Regions from separate parts of the Homo sapiens genome. Here regions 2 and 3 are each linked to region 1. The links come from fine-mapping of genetic effects on gene expression. A gene starts in region 1. Each other region holds a variant in brackets. All regions are shown on one strand. Distances are between the middles of the regions. Region 1 holds the start of EXOC1 (exocyst complex component 1). Region 2 overlaps EXOC1 (exocyst complex component 1). Region 3 overlaps EXOC1L (exocyst complex component 1 like).

What was found. PIP is the estimated chance that this variant, and not a neighbour inherited with it, causes the effect.
Region 2: its variant is fine-mapped to the expression of EXOC1 in nasal epithelium (TOPMed, PIP above 0.99).
Region 3: its variant is fine-mapped to the expression of EXOC1 in transverse colon (GTEx, PIP 0.98).

What each region holds. Positions count from the first base shown.
Region 1 is chr4:55,852,430-55,855,196 of GRCh38, reverse strand. EXOC1 (exocyst complex component 1) reads right to left here and starts at 1,549. Exons shown (of 19, transcript NM_001024924.2): 1 at 1,244-1,549. RefSeq lists a silencer at 1,658-1,757.
Region 2 is chr4:55,888,661-55,891,427 of GRCh38, reverse strand. EXOC1 (exocyst complex component 1) reads right to left here. Exons shown (of 19, transcript NM_001024924.2): 11 at 2,496-2,540; 12 at 1,042-1,205; 13 at 6-113. EXOC1-AS1 (EXOC1 antisense RNA 1) reads left to right here. Exons shown (of 5, transcript XR_941069.4): 5 at 902-1,836. Among named protein-coding and RNA genes, the nearest start is that of EXOC1, 36 kb to the right of the region's middle. The variant T/C (reference allele first, on the strand shown) is at 1,393.
Region 3 is chr4:55,826,630-55,829,396 of GRCh38, reverse strand. All of the region lies in intron 1 of EXOC1L (exocyst complex component 1 like), which reads right to left. Among named protein-coding and RNA genes, the nearest start is that of EXOC1L, 8.2 kb to the right of the region's middle. The variant G/A (reference allele first, on the strand shown) is at 1,460.

The DNA of each region.
Region 1 (2,767 bases):
ACAAGATAATTTTAAAAGACAGTTTGTATCACATCACGCTTTTACTCAACGTTTTCCTAATGTTCTCAAAAACATTCCACTCCAAACACTCTGTTCATTTTGGACATCAAATCTTCACTTTGGTACTTTCCATGTAAGGAATATCATCTCCGCCCTATCCAAACCCTAATTACACTTCATGGTTTACATGAAGTTGATTCAATGAAGATCTTAATCCAAAGTGATCTCTCCTCTAAATTTCTACAGCACTTACTGCATTTGCCGTCTAATGGGCTCATTAAATCATAAGCTTCTCTATCTCAAGAATTCTCTTAAAGAAGGGAGGGATGTTCATCATAGTTTTGTGTTTAGTGGATACTTAAATATCTATTAAGGTAATTAGAACTGAATAGTAAAAACTGGTCAAATGAATAATAGGGACCAACGTTTACCACATACTCCTTCTCTGGCTAAAAGCAACTGAGTGTACAGTAAGAGGCAAAACAAGACAGGATTGGGCATACCTCATAAAGGAGTTAGCCATAATGAAAAGCAGTATGTGACTCTTCATTCATTCAGCAAATACTCATGCTTATTAGGTGGCAGACACTATTCTAGGTTACAGTAGTCAACATGACAGATATGTTTATGAAGACCTGAAGCCGGGTGTTTCTATGGCATTTACATCCTAAGAGTCGAGTGATTAACTCTTCAGTCTTTACGGTACTTTTCTGAAAGTCAGTAAATAAATCCCTAGAGGTCCTCTAAAATTATTCTCCAGGTCTGAGAACCCATATCTGACCACGTTCCAAAGGCAGCCATCCACTGCTTACTCTGTACTGGTTGTTTCCTTCAGCTCAGTTGGACCACCACACTGTGTGACAAATAGCCTGTCAGTGTGAGTGCCCGTGTGCATTGGGCCCTGTATGCTGCTGAGATATATTAATGCATGAAGCATTGCCATCTAGAAGATATAACTGTGCAAGGAAATAGAGAAATACACTTAAGAGATTTGGCGGGGGGTGGGGGGGAGTTGGGGTTGGGGGGCCGGGATGTGAATTTGGACAAAGAGGAAGGCACAGTCACGCTCTCCTCTCCTGGACCACGCCAAAGAGCTTACGATCAGGGTCATTTTGCACAAACAAAATCTGGTTCCGATGGGCGGAACCGTAATGGGGCCCGTGAGGACTGCCCTCCCAGCTCCGCATTCTCCTAGACCCGAGGACAAGGGACTGGAGAATGCTCTGACCAAACTTCGTCTTACCGGGACAAACGGGGAAAGGAAGGTCAGAAGGAGCGGTGCCCGACCCCAGGCGTGGAGACAGCAGCCGGACTGAGGAGCCGCCTTAGACCCTGGTGCCTGTCAGCTCGTCTGTCCGCCGCCGCCGGGACTACCGGGCAGCCGCGGCCGAAGGCTTACCGCAAGGCCGGACTGAGCCTGGCTGTGCCGAGGCGGGTCTTCCAAAACGGAGACCGGATGGGGGCCACTAGGATACGCCCCTCAATAAAGCGTTGAACGGGAAGCGGCCGTTCCCCCAACACTTCCTATATCCGGGCACGTGACAAACTCCGCGCCGGAAGTTGACCGCGTAGAGAAGGAAGAAGCAGCGATGGGAGAAAAAGGGAGCGGCCAATAGACGCGGAGGGGCGGGGCGCCAACCGACGGGCGTGGCCAGGCGGAACAAGGCCTCATTGGAGGGGCGTGTCAGGGAAGGGCAGGGGCGGGGCCTTTGTGGCACAGAAACTGACTTGGGAGTTGGGGATTAAGAGTTATTTATTCAGATATTTGCAGCAATTCATTTAAGAAGAAATTCGATTAAATGTTTTCTTTTTTCATACGTAAAGCTCTATTAACTCTAGATCTTTGCTACTTAAACTTTGGAGAGCTTAAATGAGTTAAATCAGAATCCCTGCGGGTGGGACCCAGACATCAGTACTTTTAATATCTTCCCAGATGATTCTCATATGCAGCTAAGGTCAAGAACCATTGTCCTCATGACCTTGATACTCAAAGTGTGGTCCGTGGATCAGCTGCTTGGGTATCATCTGGGGGCTTTTTAGGAAATGCAGCCTCTCTGGCTCACTTCAGATCTACTGAATCAGAATCTGCATCTTAGCAAGATGATGCTTATGCATATTTAAGTTTGGGATGCATAAATGATGCCAATGTTGCTGGTTGCAGGTAGGTGTTTTATTTATTCAATATTCCTGGCACCTTTTTTTTTTAATGCTAGGCACTTTGATTCCAGGTACAGAGGTGATTCAGGCATGAATCTTAACCTAAAGGAGTTCACAGTGTGGTAGGACTAGACAAGGTGTAGGTACAAATATATATAAAATAGGACACAAAATAAGTGACCAAAGAGAGGTACAGATCAGATAAATGTGCTAGAAATTTAAATGAGCAAACAGTAGTTAGAATACTTTTCACTTTCATCAAATGACTTCCCTTTTAAGAGCAGGATCTGGTTATATCTTTACAAAGACCCTTTCCTGCTTGGCACCGGAATGCTTACTGTGGACACTCTATGACAATTGCATGTGTTTTTTGGTCCTATTATCTTTCTTTTATTTACCTGTATGTTTATAGCCCTCCTCAAAGTTGGGAAATGAATTGCATTTCAGAAGCCTAGATCTCTTTCTTGAACCTCAAGATTTGTGTATATACTGCCCATCGCCTGACATTTCCACTTGGATGTCTTATAGACACCTCAAACTTGTGTGTCCAAAAATTAAATTATCCTCTCTCCTCTTGGATTCCCTGCAAAGTGACACTTATATGCAATAG
Region 2 (2,767 bases), 36 kb before region 1:
CATACCATAGTTCCAGGCATACTTTGATGTTGCTGTAGTTTGAAAAATTTACTTATGAAGTCCTGTTCTGCCAGACATAGGGGCTCCAGTTCACTTAGTACCTGTTCAAAGATCTGAAGAAAACCAAAGTGATCCTATAACGAAAGAACTGCACCAAATGCTTAAAATAACACTCCACATTTAATTTTCTTTTCTGCACAGACCATGGATCCATAATCTCACTAATCTATGAATTTATAATCTCAATGGAATCCCAAAAACAAACTCTTCCAAGATCTACAGGACAATGGTATTAGCAAGGTATAACAAGGCCACAAAATAAACCTAAAATAAAACTCACAGTTATTCACTTCACATCTGGAAAGAGGAGCACAAAGATCAACTTTTAAAACTTATTTATGGCCAGGCATGATGTCTCATGCCTGTAATCCCAGCACTTTGGGAGGCCAAAGCGGGCAGATCACTTGAGCTCAGGAGTTCGAAACCAGCCTGGCCAGCATGGTGAAACCCCATCTCCACTAAAAATACAAAAATTAGCTGGGTGTGGTGGCAGGCACCTGTAATCCCAGCTACCTGGGAGGGAGGCAGAAGAACTGCTTGAACCCAGAAGGTGGAGGTTGCAGTGAGCTGAGACTGTGCCACTGCATTCCAGCCTGGGTGACAGAGCAAGACTCCATTTCAAAAACAAACAAACAAAAAAACTTATTTAATTTAGTACAGAGAAAGGCCAGCATCACAAAAGCTTTTATTTCCTCTTACTTTTTAGGTGCCCAAACAACTTAGATTTGAGATATAAGCATTTTATGATTTATAACAAATTTTAATAAAGCTTTTATGCCATTTCATTGATAATTCACATTTTACTTGTCCTTTGACTAGTTTTTTTTTTTTTTTTTCCCAGATTCGATTCAGTTGGAAAGACATGGTTAATGCTTAAGAGAGCCAGAAGAACCCAAATCTTTGAACACACTTAGAGCAACCACAAACTGCTGTTAGAAAACTAATGTTAATGTTTAAGAAGTACTTGTTATTTTAGTTTACCTTATCAAATTTGGTCCTGTCAGCAACATCGAGATCAGAGGCAGACATGTTTCCCATATCCAACAGGGAAGATGACTGAGATCTGCGATTCCCTGAACTCTGAACACTGAGCTTATTTAGACTAGAAGTAGATCCAGTTAATTTCCCCGAACTTCCATGAAGACCTAAGAAATAATAAAACTTTGAAAGTTGTGATCTTCACAAATAAATGATCCAAAGTATAAAGCAGGGATAGATCTTCTATCTTCTACTGGCTTGATCTTCCAGGGCTCATATTAGTTAGTGCACAAATCTTCTATAAGGGATAGGTGGTATAGTTTCCTTATCTTCCATTAACATTGGTGTCCTAAT[T/C]CTGAGCATATTGAAAAAAGAAGCGAAACTACACAGATCCATAGAACGGGACTGAAAGGGACCTTAAGGAGCATATTGTCTATAACCTGCCCATTTCATAAAGTCGCCTGGTGATATCGCTAGACTAAAGTAGATGAGGGTTTCTTTTCCATTCAAAAGGACAGGAATATGGATGAAGGTCAATGAGGACCACGTTAGCATATTAGCCAGCATGACTTTGTTATACTTCAGAAGAAAACTGCTGCATCTCAATGTTACCTCCACAATAAATCAATATATTAGGTTGAACCACATGAAACTGCCCATACTTGATCATTTTGCCCTACCAAAAAAAGTCAATTACATATGATTCAACTTAGTATGTTCCAAACTCTGAAACTGCTTTTCCAGTAAGTGAACTGATTATAGTCCTTTAAAAACTAAATAAAATGAACAGAAAAAACACCCTGAAAACTCGTTATATTTAAAATACAGCCGAAATGTAATACATACATCACTAATCATATTAATATGGGACATCTGTGTTTAGGTAAAATTTTGGTATCCGTCATAGCCATGAGGAAAAATGAGAACATATAGCTGGCAATAGCTCACATACACCAAGGAATTAAAGGATTTGATTTTTAGAAGAAAATGTGATATTTTTATTCAGAATTAAACATAAACAATAACTAATATATTTTAAAAACATCCTTCCTGAATATCTCTCAGTTAACTTGTACTATTTGCTAATGGTCAGAAAAGACAAATGAAGACAGAACAGGTACAATTAAAGATAAACTTTGGCTTCATTATGTAAAATCCGACCATATCTATATAAGATTTTTTATAGTTTCTAAACAGCCTGAAAATAGAAGTATAATGGTTAAGTCTTTTCACAAATTTCTGACACAATGTTCTACTACTCGTCAAGTAATTTTAACTATATCATATATTTCTTGGATACAGCCATATCACTACCATCATGTTGGCTTTCTTTCACCAATACCTGGCAATTCAGAGCAATCAAAATTTTTGGTGTTACCTTTTTTCAAGACAACTAATTTCTAGACATTAAACAAACATGCATTGAGAATACCTACTAATACACTAAGCATACTCACTCTCTGTTTCCTGTTTGACAGCACTTTCTTTTCGAGGCAGTGTAGCTGTGATGGATTAGGTTGCAAGCATCAAAGACAAAGACAAGTTAATAAACTGCAATTTGCACAAACCATGCACAAGAGGAAGTTAAAGCTCTAGTTTAAAAGACACATGCAAAGAACCATGAGCATCAAGTAACAAGAAGTGCAAACACATGTTTAGTTGGTCACCTACTGTTTGAGAAATTATATGAGAGAAAAAACTTTACTTTTAATGTATTGTTTTTACTCAA
Region 3 (2,767 bases), 26 kb after region 1:
ACCACCTCTCAACAGTGTGGTCTAAGTAAATGATTTAATCTCTAGAGAGATTAAACCTCACTTTTCTTATGTTGTAAAATAGACATCAGAATGATCCAAATTCATAGGGTGTAAAGACTAAAGTAGACAAAATATATAAAGAACTTAGGATAGTGCCTGGTTTACAGTAACTGTTAAAAATGTTTTGTTTTGTTTTGTTTGTTTTAAGAGGCTGTTGTAGTAACCTGGGCATGGGATGTGGGTCATGGATAAAGACGTGGAAAATCCAAGTAAGATTTAAAATAGCACTGGATGGAAACAACACTGGATGAAAACCAAACACTGAATACAAACCCAAATAGGAAAGTAGAGAGGGTGAGTTGGTTGGGTGGAAAAATGAGTTTTGTTTTTGACACACAGTTGAAGTAGCCACAAATTATCTCAAAAGAGAATGAGATGGAAGTTTTGTAGTTTAGGAATGGAGATACTTGGGTTTTTTCCTGTGGAAAGGTTTCCAAGGCCAGTTTTTTGTTGTCGTCATTTGTTTGTTTGTTTGTTTGTTTGTTTTTCATTTTGAAAGAGGGTCTCACTCTGTTACCCAAGCTGGAGTACAGTGGCATGATCATGGCTCACTGCAGCCTCAACCTCCTGGGCTCAAGCATACTTCCACCTCAGCCTCCTGAGTAGCTGGGACTACAGGAATGCACCACTATGCCTGGCTAATTTTTTTTATCTTTTTTGTAGAGACGGGTCTCACTGTATTACCCAGTGATAGTGATAGTGGTCTCAAACTCCTGGCCTCAAGCCATGCTCCTGCCTCGGCCTCTCAAAATGTTGGGATTATAGGTGAGAGTCACCATGCCTGGCCCCCAAACCACATTTGTAGAGAAAAGAGCAGAGGAAAGAGGTGAGAGAAAGTGAGAAGAAAAATAGATGCCAGGAAAGACGTCTGAGAAGGGGTCTGAGAGACAGGCCCAGCTGTGTAATGCTATGGGAATCAAGAGGATGGTGAAGTTTAAAGGTTTGGAGACAATCCCGTTAAGTCCCTTTATTAGGTAAGGCAGAGTTCAGCCCTAGCACTGAATCTGACTTGGAAGAAGATCGTGAATTTCCTCCATGAGGGCAGTTTCTCTAGAATGCTGAGGGCAGAAGACAACTTGCAGAGGACTCCTTCATGCACTAACACTATTTGAGTGCACATTGTGTGCCAGCCTCAAGGTTAGGTAGGATTTACAAAGGTAATAGGAAGGAAGACTAAAGGCTATGATGGAGATCACATATTCCAGGAGTTTGGAAGAGGAGGGATTATACGTTTTGGAGGCAGAGAGAGTGACTAAGGCACATCTTCTGGAGAGGACCTCAAGCAGAAGATCTTAACTTGGGGTCAATGAGCTAGTTTAGAGTCTGTGATCCCTCTGACAGTGTACCAAAGTTGGTGGGCTTCTGCCCACCTATCCTTCTCTAGCACTAAAAAGTTTCC[G/A]TCTCCACTGGTGTAGATGTTAGTCTTGGGAAGACGAAAGGATTAAAAGTGAAGCTGTTAGGCAGAGGTGGTGAAGTGGAGGCACACTTGAATCTGTCATGCTTACTAAGGACAAGATCTTGGAGACATTTTCCTCCACCAGGAGGCAGTTGTATGCCCAGAAAGAAGCTGTACCCCAGAACCAAAGGACTATGTTCTTGCTCCAGCTAGATGTCTCACATGGTGCTTAGGGGGTGGGAGAGAATGGGGTTGGGGAGGTATGAAAAATGTAATTTTCATGGAGCAAATTCCACTGCCTCATCTACATGTTATGAAAAGCATGTTATGGTCATTTGTAGGCCACACATTCATCTCATTAAATTGATAAATATTCGAGTGCCCTTTTTGTACCAAGCACTGTGTTAGGAATTGAAAACATTAAATCTCATAAGGCATCATTCCTGCTGTCACTGAGATTGTAGGGAGTGGGGTCTTCAGAAAGAAAACCTGTGCTTACAGTTCTGCAAATAAGAAATAGACAAAGTAATTGAGGAACGTGGAGGAAGGATGTCTTCATCCAAGTGGGGGTCTGGGAGAGCTTCCTGAGAGAGGTAACCTGAGTTGTAAATGGCAGTAGAAGTTAGCAGAATGAAGATGGGTAAAGGTAGTTCTAGAAAAGCATTCACACAAAGGCATGAAATACTTGACACTTTTAAGTCATTAAAAGCATCTGGTATTGCTGGCATGAGGTGTGAGGGTGGACAGGTGGCAGGGAACAAGTTAGGCAAGACTAGTTCCTGAGGGGTCTAGAATACCAGGCTGAGAAGATCAAAGGTTATTCTGAAAGCCATGCATTTCTCTGTATAAGAGAGAGAAGTTGTCACTGAAGGATTTAAAGTGAATGGACAGACTGAGCTTTTAAGGTTCAGAAACTTATTTTGTGATCTTCCATAAAGGATAGGTTGGAGGTGGGGAATGGAGAGAAGAGACATGAAGAAGGTGAGTCCTACGAGTCATCACATTTTCTTACATTAATGGTCACTGTCCCATTAACACCAAACTAAGAAAGTAAAAGAGCATTCTTTAAAAGTTAACCTTTTGACAAAACAGCTTCCTTTATAGCTAAGGAGTCTCCAAGAATTGTCTTTAGCCACAAGCCAAAGAAGTCTACTTAGCCTGGAGTCAACCCAATCCCTAATTTCCACACTTCAGCTTTGCTGCCAGCTAAAATTAAATGGCCGTATCCACATTAATGCAGTGGCAAAGTGGAAACCTATCACATTGTCTTAAAACAGAAATGTGTTTATATAATCAAAATGTTAGAGAGTT